Linked DNA regions of Homo sapiens: region 2 is linked to region 1. The links come from fine-mapping of genetic effects on gene expression. Tissue or cell type: breast. Region 1 holds a variant in brackets; the other region holds the start of a gene. All regions are shown on one strand. Distances are from middle to middle. Region 1 holds the start of LHX4-AS1 (LHX4 antisense RNA 1). Region 2 holds the start of LHX4 (LIM homeobox 4).

The links. PIP is the estimated chance that this variant, and not a neighbour inherited with it, causes the effect.
Region 2: it holds the start of LHX4, and the variant in region 1 is the best candidate, but not a certain one, in a credible set for the expression of LHX4 in breast (GTEx, PIP 0.76).

The regions. Positions count from the first base shown.
Region 1 is chr1:180,270,740-180,276,105 of GRCh38, reverse strand. LHX4 (LIM homeobox 4) reads right to left here. Exons shown (of 6, transcript NM_033343.4): 4 at 4,572-4,726; 5 at 4,100-4,271; 6 at 1-1,921. The coding sequence ends at 1,527. It overlaps LHX4-AS1 (LHX4 antisense RNA 1), which reads left to right and starts at 1,425. Exons shown (of 5, transcript NR_037642.1): 1 at 1,425-1,455; 2 at 1,994-2,169; 3 at 2,708-2,768; 4 at 3,414-3,493; 5 at 4,135-5,366. It also overlaps a transcript of ACBD6 not described here. RefSeq lists an enhancer at 3,665-4,592. The variant C/A (reference allele first, on the strand shown) is at 2,582.
Region 2 is chr1:180,227,777-180,233,142 of GRCh38, reverse strand. It overlaps LHX4 (LIM homeobox 4), which reads right to left and starts at 2,879. Exons shown (of 6, transcript NM_033343.4): 1 at 2,538-2,879. The coding sequence starts at 2,613. RefSeq lists a silencer at 3,309-3,438.

The DNA.
Region 1 (5,366 bases):
GAAGAAGCAAACACAGCTTCCCAGAGGGACAGGAATAAATTCCAGCTGGCTAAATTCCAGTTTGCACATGGAGAGCTTCCTGATGGTAGATGGGTGCACAAGGTGGGTGGGAGCTGCAGCACCATTCAGGACAGCGTTTCCCACAGCAGTGCAGTCTGTCGCAGGAGTGGCAACTCGTAAAGCGGGGGTTGGCCTTGCTCTGGCCTCAGGCTTAGTGATTTGCTACTGCAAACCTGCACAACGGGGAGTCCCTGCACCACCACTGGCCAGAGAGTTCTGGCTTTCTGACCATGGGACTGCAGCCCAAGGCATGGCAGGTGTCCAGCCAGCAATCCAGAGAGATGCAGCCCAAGAACCACTTAGAACCCTTTGGACAATTTTAGGGCTGCTCCCTAAATTACTCTTCCCAACCAAGGTAGGCCAAAAAAAAATTGCTGGTTCCTGGAAATGACCAAAACTGTCCTCCAATTGAGTCAGCTAGGACAGCAGAGAAAGCTTTCAGAGGGGTAGACTTGCAAGCTCATCTAAACCAACTCCTTCAAAACAGACTCCAAATATTTCACCCTACAAGGGATGGGGAACTCTGGAAGACTGGCATCAGCCGATATGGCTGAACAGACTGCAGGTTTGGAATCCAAATGTGTCTACAAATGTTCACTGATTGATTGTCATTTTGTTCTCCCCACATTTTAGTTTTGCTCATTTTACAGCCCACAGCCTGTCTTGTGGAATAAATGATACAAGCAATTGAAGAAGGCACACTGTGCACCAAGGGGACGACTCAGGCAATCTGCAGCGGTGGTCCAGGGCTACTCAGCTCAGCCTCAGTCACCTGCAATGAAAACCACCTCTTGCCATCAGAGTCAATGATATAGATGGGACACTTAAAAACCAAAACAGGTTCATATTCTCTGGTTTGTAGGAAAGAATTCATATCTTCACAGCAAAAATAAAAAAGGAGGGGGCATGTTTTTAATATCAAACTGGCCATCAAAGTGTTCACTGACCTTTAATAACTGATCTTTTCATTTTGAAATATAGGGTTCAATAAGGATGGTCCAGAAATCACTTTTATTTTACTCAAGGGCTGTGAGGCCTCTACCTTAGGAGTCTCAGTTCTGGTGAGAGCAGTGTTTTGGGAGGCATTGTGTGAGACACACCAGTTGGAGCAAAGTTCCCAAAGGCCAAGGGGGCCTATCACAGTCACCTTGTGCTACCAAAGCACTGAGCAGCCAAGCCCCTAAGCAGAACAGCAGGGGAGAGACCCAACAAGCCAGTGTCCCTAGAGCTCTAGGCCATTACCCCCTGTGCTGTGTTCTGAGATGAGTCTGCTCTCCCACTGCTTCCCCAGGGAAACAATGCCCTAGTGTGGTCTCACAGCCTTCTAGGAATCAGCGGAGGACTTCCATTGAAAATAATGGAAATTCACATTGGCGTACTTTCGATCCTTAAAAGGCAAGTCTCTTTTGATCCTTGAAGATATTCTCTCAAGCCAGGGGGGCAGGTAGGGTGGGGAGGAGAGAAGTTTAAAAAGGAGGATGATCCATTTCATCGAGCCAAGAGCCTGGGCTAGTTGGAAAGTCGGGATAGCCTACACTGCTTCCTGTGGAGATGTCAGAGGTGGGTCCCCCAGCCATGGCTCTCAGCGTCTGGCTTACTCCCTGCCCTGCATGCGCAATGATGCCCAAATTACTGTCCACCGTGTAATCCAGCCCATTGAGCAAAGGAGCGTGGGATGGCAGGGACGATATGGAGGATGGAGACTGGGGGATTCCATAGGGGCTCCCATCCCTCAAGTCCTGATAGGATTGTCCTGTCCCGTCCATGGAGAAGCTCCCATTCATTAACTGTCCGCCTGTAACGTCCCCCACGTTGCCATAAATCCTATTGGTGTGGCCAAGTTCTGAGAGAATTTGATCCTCTGTGGACAAAAGAACGGAGATTTATTGTCAGCTGCCAGGACTCTGATGGTCCCCTGCTCTTCACAACCTAGGAACACACATGACCAGGAAAGATGCCCAAGGATGGCAGCTGCCTTGCAGCCAAGCATGGGTCAGACACACCAATATGGCAGCCTGATATCCAGAGGCCAACCCAGGCCAAGGAGAAAAACAAGAAACACCTGCAAAGACTAAATTCCCAGGTCCCAGAAGGATGGACAAATGTTTGGTGAGCTCGTTGGTCCCTTGTGGCTCGTGTACTAATACTCTGGCTACACTGAGGAGGATGAATGCCTAAGGCTGGGTGGGTCAGATGTCTCCACATCACAAATGGAAACTACATGCTGACAACATTTACCCTGAAAGCTTTCAAGCTGAGAAAGGGCTTGGTTTAGTTGATTGGGAAGCAAGCAGGCCCATATGGTCAGGGAAGCTGAGGACCACTCTTAGACATCTGTACAAAATCCTTCTGGTCTATCTGGAAGAGAGGTTCAATATCAAAGGACTTGGTTTCTGTCTGTATTCAATAAGCTCTTCACTGGGGACAAAGAATTGACTTGATTAAGGCAAATGAACCTTCTTTTTTCTTAAAGAATTTCATTAAGGGGATCTAATGGAATCTTTGCCACTTGAAAGAATTT[C/A]TCTCTCCAACAGAGGTGAGCAGTTTTAGTCTTTGAGAAATTATTCCCAGAGAAACCAATGATAGGTCAGCCCAGGGACCCACCTGCACCCAACAGAAATGAGCTTAACAATCCAGTATGTTCTAGGTGTTGACTTCAACAGCCCAGATGAGATTGACTTTCCCAATCCTGCCAAGAAGCCTAAAAGGTGAGTATTAGTCCCATGAGCTGTCCCCAAGGCCTCACGGGCCCTGTGTTCTCAGAGGAGGCTGCCCTCTAGGGCTCAGCTGACCTCTGGGCTGAACTAGAGTCCTCCCAGGGCATCGTTGTCCTGGCAGGCAACTTGTTCCATCCTCTGTCCCACAAACTTCCTTTTCTATTTCCACCTGGGCCTCTGCACCAATCCCTAAATAAGGCCTCCCCAGACTAGACTTCAACACCCCATCCCTTCTGAGGCCTGCCCCCCATTCCCCTTATGAAAAAACATGGTGGGGGGAGCTCATGCTCTTTAAAGGGAGCAGGAAGATGAAGGCTCCACTCCATTGTCAAATGGCCATGAGTTAGCCTTTTCCCTATACCTGTCATCCCAAATGACCAGGGCCCTCTGCGGGAGCCACACGCTCCCTGTGGGAACGATCATGCCTTCCAGGTATACAAATGTGCCAGGCTTTCCCCAAGCACATCCACAGTTGGTTGTGTTCATTGATCCCCACAACGCAGTGAGATGGGCAAAGATATGGTATTCCTCTTGGGAATACTGGGGCTCAAGAGAAGTGAATCGATTTGACAGAGCTGCACTGGAAACCAGGTCTCTGATCGCCAGTTGAGTACTCTTCCCTTTCCCCCTCCGCAGAAGACCTTCCACATTTGAGAACTCAGTACCTGAGAACAGTTATGATTCTTTGCAAACAACCTGAGGATTCATAACATGCAGTAATTTACAATTTTGCTGATGCATGAATTTGAATATAGTGCATGCTGCAAAGCTTGTGTGCAGGGGACAGAATGAAGTGAGTGGTGGGGAAAGGGATTTCGGAAGTGAAGCCAGTTCCCCATCTCACATGCACTCACAGTACTGATTTCCCAGGAAAAAACCTGTGGAGCATGACCTCCCCACCACCAGGACTGGAGGAAGGGGTGGCTCTAGGGGACTATGGGAGTAGGCCAGTGTCCCAGCAAAGGGGACAAAGATGGGAGAGGGGCTAGGGGCACAAGGCTGGAACCCAGTCATCTGTTCATAGCTGTGTGGGCTGATGAGGGAGGCCCCAGTCAGCAGGAGGGGAGGGGAGACCTTGGGGCCACAGGACGGGGCCTGGCCCATCCCAGCTTCCAGACCTCAGCAATCTTGTTTCCTACTCCTGTCCCATGGTAAAGGGCCACTACCATTTCCCCCACCCTTCACTGCAAGTCTTAAGGAAAAGCCTGTGTTCAGGAGGGAGTTGCCAAGGCCTCAAGAAAGATCCCTCCTGAGTGCCAGGGATTACAGATTCCCAGGGGACTTTCCTAAGGCCTCGGCCTGGCCCCTCCAGCCCTGCTCACCTCGGAAGCTCAGCTCACTGTCACTAACCCCACAGTCCTCTGCAGAGCTCTCCTTCTCCTGCTTGCTGCTGCCCCGGCTCCTCTTGACGCTCTTATAGAACTGCCCCCAGCGGTGCCGCCCTGCATCCTTCTTCAGGCGTTTCTCTTTGGCCCTTCTGTTCTGAAACCAAACCTGCCACACAAGCACAAGGGACATACTCAGGGGGCGTCCACCACAAACCCAAAGCCCCCAGGACCCCCTAGGCGGGCGGCTGGAAGCAGACTGAAGCCTGAATGGAGCACAGGTCTGGGAGTGCGATGCGCCCCACCCCCTCTCCCCAGGTGGGCCTCAGAACTCTGTCTTCAGTTCTGGCAAAAGCCCTGGGGTCAAGCCCTGAGCCCAACCACCCGTGAGCTGATGTCACTCAGGATACCTTCCACCCCTGTCCCGGGCCTGGGATCCCCGGAGGGCACAGGAGTGCTGGCATCTCACCTGTACGACCCTCATGTCCAGGCCTGTCTCTGAGGACAGCTGCTCCCTCACGTGCCGGGCAGGCTTGGGGGAGTTCTTGTATGCATTCTTTAATGTCTCCAGCTGCTTGGCTGTGATGGTGGTCCGGGGCCGCTTAGCTCCAGCCTCTGAGTCATCTGCAAGGAAAAACCACTGCTTACTGGCTTCGGCCTATCTGCAGCAGCTGCGCCTCCTCCCACACCCTCCCTTCCATCCTTTCTGCACCTAAGCCTGCCTGCTGTAGGCAGGACAGCGCGAGGCACAGGGGACATCAGAGTGGAGAGGTCCCCACTCTCATGGCACTGACTCCTGCACCACGGGCCTTCCCAAGCCACTGAAAAGTGAGGACAGCAGTCCTTTCTCTGCTCAGCTCCCTGCCTCAACCCTCCCCTGCCAGCCCAGCTGCACAGAAGTCTCATCAGATTGAATGTACCCAATTCCACACGTCCCTGTCATGACAAACACTCTGCTCACACATCCTCATGAGTTCTTGCCAGAGCTGTGAAGGTGAACAGCCAGGTTGAAGTCATGTTCAAAGTCGCCCCAGATGCCCTCCCCTCTGTCTCATCAGGAGTCTCCCATTTCCCCACAGCCATGTCACCTTTGCCCTGGCGTCGCTGGGCTCACAGCCAGGGGTGAGCTTGCACACCCAACAGTGTCTAAGCAGGTTTCTAAACTATAGGTCAGAACCCACTCGTGGGCTGTAAAGTCACCTTAGTGGATCAAAACTAAAACAGGAAATCAGATGAAGAGAATGGGATGGAATGGCAAGATCAT
Region 2 (5,366 bases), 43 kb after region 1:
CAAAGGAATAGTCCAGCTGCCGCCGAAATAAGCTGGATTTAAATCACTTCTTCTAAAATGCCCCTAGAGGGGAGGGCACTAGAGGCACCGAGCTTGGGGACACCTAGACCTGCGTCCCCAAGTGCTCCATTCGTGGTGACTCCATGTGATGAAGAGGCAAACATGTCTGTGTTGAGAGGGAAACCCTTCTAGTTGGCGACTGGAGGGACCCCTGTGGGAGAGCGTTTCTTTTGTCTCCCCTCCTCTAGGGTTTAAGAGCCTACTGTCCCGGAAGGCCCAAGGGTGTGCCCCACAACCCCTCGAGCTTCCCCCCTTCTTAGGCCACTGGGCCCAGTCCCAAGAAAACTAATAGTTGTGTATATGTGGGTGATGGGGACCTATCCCGCGGTCCCAGCACCAACAGCCTAACAGCCAGAGGCCAGATGTGCTGCAAGGGAGGCTACAATCCATTCACATTCCAAGAGGAAATAAAAGCTGGATCCAGAAGTCTTCAGGGAGTGGGCCCCTCAATTTTGGCCGATGCCTCCTCCAACCAAGGTCACGAAACTCGGACAAAGGGAGGACTGACCACCCCCTCTAGATTAGACATTGCCTCCCTGGGCCACCCTGGGGGGGTGGGTGTGGAAGTTCCTTTGTACACCTCAAGTTTTCCACAGTGTGAACCTAGACTCAGCCTTGGCAAACTGTAGCTCTGAAGGTGAGTTCTGGGCATTTTAGCAAAGCGACTCCCTGACGTCGAACATCAAAGTTGTCTCTGAACAGGGAAGGCAAAAAGTGAGACAATCAGAGTGTCACTCATCACAAGAAAGGCCGTCAGAGCAGAGACCATCGTCCTTCATTGGGGTCCCAACAGACAGGTCACCTACGGACCACAGCCATGAAAGCACAGACGTACTGGGTACCAAGGACACTAGTAACACACACACACCCTTCCCCCACTCATGCAGTCTCCTCACTCGCGCAGAGCTACAAGCAGCTTAAGGACTCGGTGCACCTTTGCAGGGTTTCTGTTTCCGTCTTTGCAGGGGCTGAGAACCCACTCTGTCCCTGCCTGTGTGCGGGGTGTGGGGCGTAGTGAATCTCCAATGCCTTCTATGAAAACATCTTAGCGGTAAACTCCCCAAGGCTCAACACAGACGTGGAACTGATTGCCGGCAGTTGACACGAAAACACTCAAAGAATAACTGTAGAATACAGCCAAGAAACAATCTAAATAGGCTTGGATGAAGCTATTCTTTTCTAGTCCCTTCTCAAAAACTTCCCAGGGAAGCCTACGGTACGCCTGCCCTCCGAAGGATCGCCGGACAGAAACCCTGCCATGGAAACCCGAGGCGCAGGAGGGCGCGCTCGTGCGCCCTAGTTTGTAGGTAGTCACCATCCCTGGATGAGCCGGCCCTTACTTAAAGTAAACCCCGAAGATGTAGCTACCGCACCACTAAAGAAGTCGCAGGCGGAAGTACAACCCCTTGGCAAGCGGAGCGAGGAACTCCTTGGTCTCTCCAGGGTGCCCGGGGCGCCCTGCTGAGCGTGCAAGCCACAGGGGCAGGACTCTCCCGGCGCTTGTCGCGCGCGCGCGCGCGCGCGCGCGACGACTGGGCACCTGTTCTGGCCTCTGCACAGATTCCCTCTCGGGGACTCTCGCTCAGGAGTGAAGCACAGAGACGGATTCCCTTCGGGAAAATCTCTGCGCGCGCACACCCATACACACAGAGAGAGACTTGGGGATAAACACGCCGCGAGCTCCGGCTGTCTCGCTAATTTCGGGCGCGGGAAGAAAGCGGGCGGGCAGGCTAGCAAAGCTCCCACACACCCCCGTCTCTACCCCTCCAAACCCGAGCCACCCTGAGCACCTGCCCTCGCGTGCGCAAAGGCTGAACCCGGAATTCACAACTTGCGGTCGCTTCTCCCTCCCCTGCATTCCTAGGCTAGCTGGAATGCGCGAGCAGATTCCCTCACAAGGAGCAGTCAGTTTCCCGCGGCGCACGCGGCGGGCGCCGCGGGCAGTAGCGGCTGGGGACTCACCCGGCACGCACGCCCGGGGCGCGGGCCGCAGGGACTAAGAGTGTGGCCGGGGCTTCTCCGCCGCCAGCCCCAGGGGCGAGAGACGCGCTCTCCAACTTCCCGCCAGCTGGGGTGAAGTTGCACTAGCGGTCCTGCAAGCGCTGACCGTCACGCCGGCGAAAGAAGATTTGTGGGGACCACCCTCGCCCTCAGGCCTGGCCTACAGCTCGTACCCCTGGGTGTCCCCAAACAGCACTCTCCCCAGCGTTCCAAGAAAAGCCTTGGGCTGGAGATGCGGGGTTCGGTACTCGGCTCGCCTCAAGCATGATCCAGGAGGCGTTCACATTCGGCCCCAAACAGCCAAGAGCCTGGCCCCCTCAAACGCACTCTGGCTGGTGCCCCTGCCCTGTGACCGCCTCTGCGCCCCGGCCGCCAGCCCCTCCCGGCCCCTGAGCGGCGTCCGGCCCGCCCCGCAGCGGCTGAGGCTGCTAGCTGTCTTGTTAGAATTAAATCAGCGAGAAAGGGGGGTGTCTTACGTTGCATCGGCACACCTAGCATCTCCGGGAGCCCCTTGACAGCCCCTTCCGCGGGGACAGTCGCACTCTGCATCATCTCGGAGCGAAAGCCAGCGAGTCGCAGTCTACGGAGATCTCTCGCTCTCTCGCTCTAGCTCGATTCAGAAATTTCAAAATAATAATTAAAACCCCAAGCAGGCCGCTGGAGTCACGGTGGAAGCCGGGCCCTCCGCTTCTCAGGGAGGACTCCACAGGCTGGCCGGCCCCCTCCCCCCGCCAGTCCCCAGTCTGTTTCCAGTCCCTTTGATCTCGCTCTCCGGGGTTGGTGCACATCCCAGGTTGAGACGCTGTTGCTGCAGCTCTGGCTTTTTTCCTCTTCCCTCCCCCGCCCGCTCCTTCCCCCTCCCCCTCCACCCTTCGCGTGCCGGCCGCCCGGGAGGCCGCGGTCACCCGGGCGTTTTGATTCATTCACACTGCAGGAGCGGCCGTGACGTCGCTTTCCGCAGGGAGGCCCGCCCTTCGGCACATCCCCCAACCCGGCGGCGGGCAGCCGACCCCGGAGGGAGTGGGGGTCCCGGCGCCCCGAGTGAGGCCGGCGGGGCGGAGGGGGGCGGGGCGGCAGGGAGCGGGGCGGGGCCTCGCAAGCCGGCACCCCCCCCCCCTCCCCGCCTCCGCCTCCGCCTCCGCCCAGCCGTGGCGGGCTCGCGCCCTGGGTATAAATTCTGCTGATGGCCTGCCGCGGCAGCAGGTGGTCGGAGACGGCGGCGCCCTGGGTTTGCGGGTCTTCGTGGGTTCCAAGCCCGCGCGGCTCGTGTCCTCCTCACTCCTCCGTTCGGACCCAGGGGCGGGGCGGAGCCGAGCCGGGGCCGAGCGGGGCAGGCGGTCCGGAGGCCGGGGACGGGGCTGCGTCGCTGTGTCTTCGCCTTGCGCGCTCTCGGTCCCCGGCTTCGCTCCGCCGGACGGAGCGCGCTCCGTAACCGATGACTCCATCTATCTTCCTCCTCCTCTTTCCCCTGGCCAATTCCTTTCCTGCCGGCACTTCCCAGCCCCTGCTCTCTCTCCCCCGCGTCTGGCTGAGGCTGGGCCAAGGGACAGCCCGTACTCGGCCCGGAACGCGCGAGTCACGCGGCGGGCGGCGCCGGCCCGGGCTGGGGAAGGGGACCAGGGGCTGTGCGCGGAGGTGGCGGGACGCAGGCCCCCCGCGCGCGTCCCCGCAGACCGCGGCCTGCAGCCGGAGTCCGCACTTGCCTCCAGTTCCGCAGGGTAGGGGGCCCAAACCTCCCCGCGGCGGGGCCTCCCCGGCCGCCCTGCCACCAGTCGTCCAGCTCGGCCCTGTCTTAGGTCCCTAGAGCCCGCTCTGCCTCTCCGGCTGCCACCGCGGGTGCTTTGAACCATCCGCGACCTCGTGCGTGCAGGGCGGCAGTGAGCACACGGACGCCGGGGTTAACCAGCGAAAGGGCTTGCCATGCTTACTGTATTTACGAGATGCATGGACAGGTAGAGAAACGCTTAAAACAAATTCTCCTCAACGCGAGTTTCTGGCAGAAATACAACAGAAGGCCCAACGCTGGGACGAGGTCTCCTCTGACGCTCCATCAGGCGCTCGACGCCTCCGGGCTGCAGGCGCGGGAAGCCCACCCCGTCTGCCCCAAGACCCAGCCGCTCTCCTGCCCCCAGCCCCCACGGCATTTCCTTCCAGAAATGCAGACATACGTGTCCTTCCAGCCTAGTGGGGTTCAGCTTAGGCGGGAAGGGGGACTGTGTGCCCTCCCCAGCCTTCCAGAACCTTCCCTGCTGTTTCCCCTGGTGTCATCTCCAAACAAGGGACACCTGCTCACCTTTAAGGGAGGAGCATGGGGCGGGGGAGAATGGCCTGGTCGTCTGCGCTGCTTAGAATTTGTCTCCAATGAGGTCACAGTGACTTTTGTGTGTCCTGGTACTGGGTTGGCATCATCTCTTCCCTTGTTTACCTGCGAGGTGACTCCGCGCGCGAGACAATATACACAAGAAGAAAAAAGCAAAAGAACCCAGTGACATTTTTAGTGTTTACCAAAATGTGTTCTATAGAAATATAACTAGTAAGCAAACACGGGGAAACGCCAGCCTCATTTGCAGTGAAAAACACGCAAGACAAAACAACACGTGCACAGCTTTTTCTGTTTGTGAGATGCCCGACGCGCGGGAGGGGCATCCTAGAGTTCAGGACTGGCGAAAGGGGCTTGGACACTCACCAATACTGCTGGGTGCTTATAAACTCTTAACATCCGTTTGGAAAGAAATTTGGCAATATGTATCAAACTCATAAATTTTTCATACCCTTTAGTTTATGTAGTACTTTTGAATGTCTGTTCCACGGAAATAATCTAGAATTTTTTATAAAAGTTTCATGCGTGAAAATGTTTATTACAGTATTATGTTTTGGAGAAAAATAACCTAAATAGCCAACAAAAGAAAAGTGGCTTAGGGAAGTAGATTAAATTGTTTGGTAGTATGTTATGGAATCATGGAAACCAATTATGAAACCCAATAACATGGGGATGCTTGTGAAATACTATTTTTTTTAAAAGCACAATGCAATAGCATAGGATTATAAATATGTAAAAATCTTAGTCAAATGTAAGGGCAATGATAATACCCATTGTTGGTTAGGCTGTGGGGAAATTAGAAAACAATTTCCTAGTGGGGATTGCAAAGAGGGGAAATGTCTTCTCAGGACGTTTTGGCTACAAATGTGATGCATTTGACCCAATCTCTATAGAAATTTATCCAAAGAAAATAATCAAGAATGTTTGTGAAGATGTAGTTACAAGGATGTTTATAAGGTTTTTAAAAGGGAAAACCTAAATATCC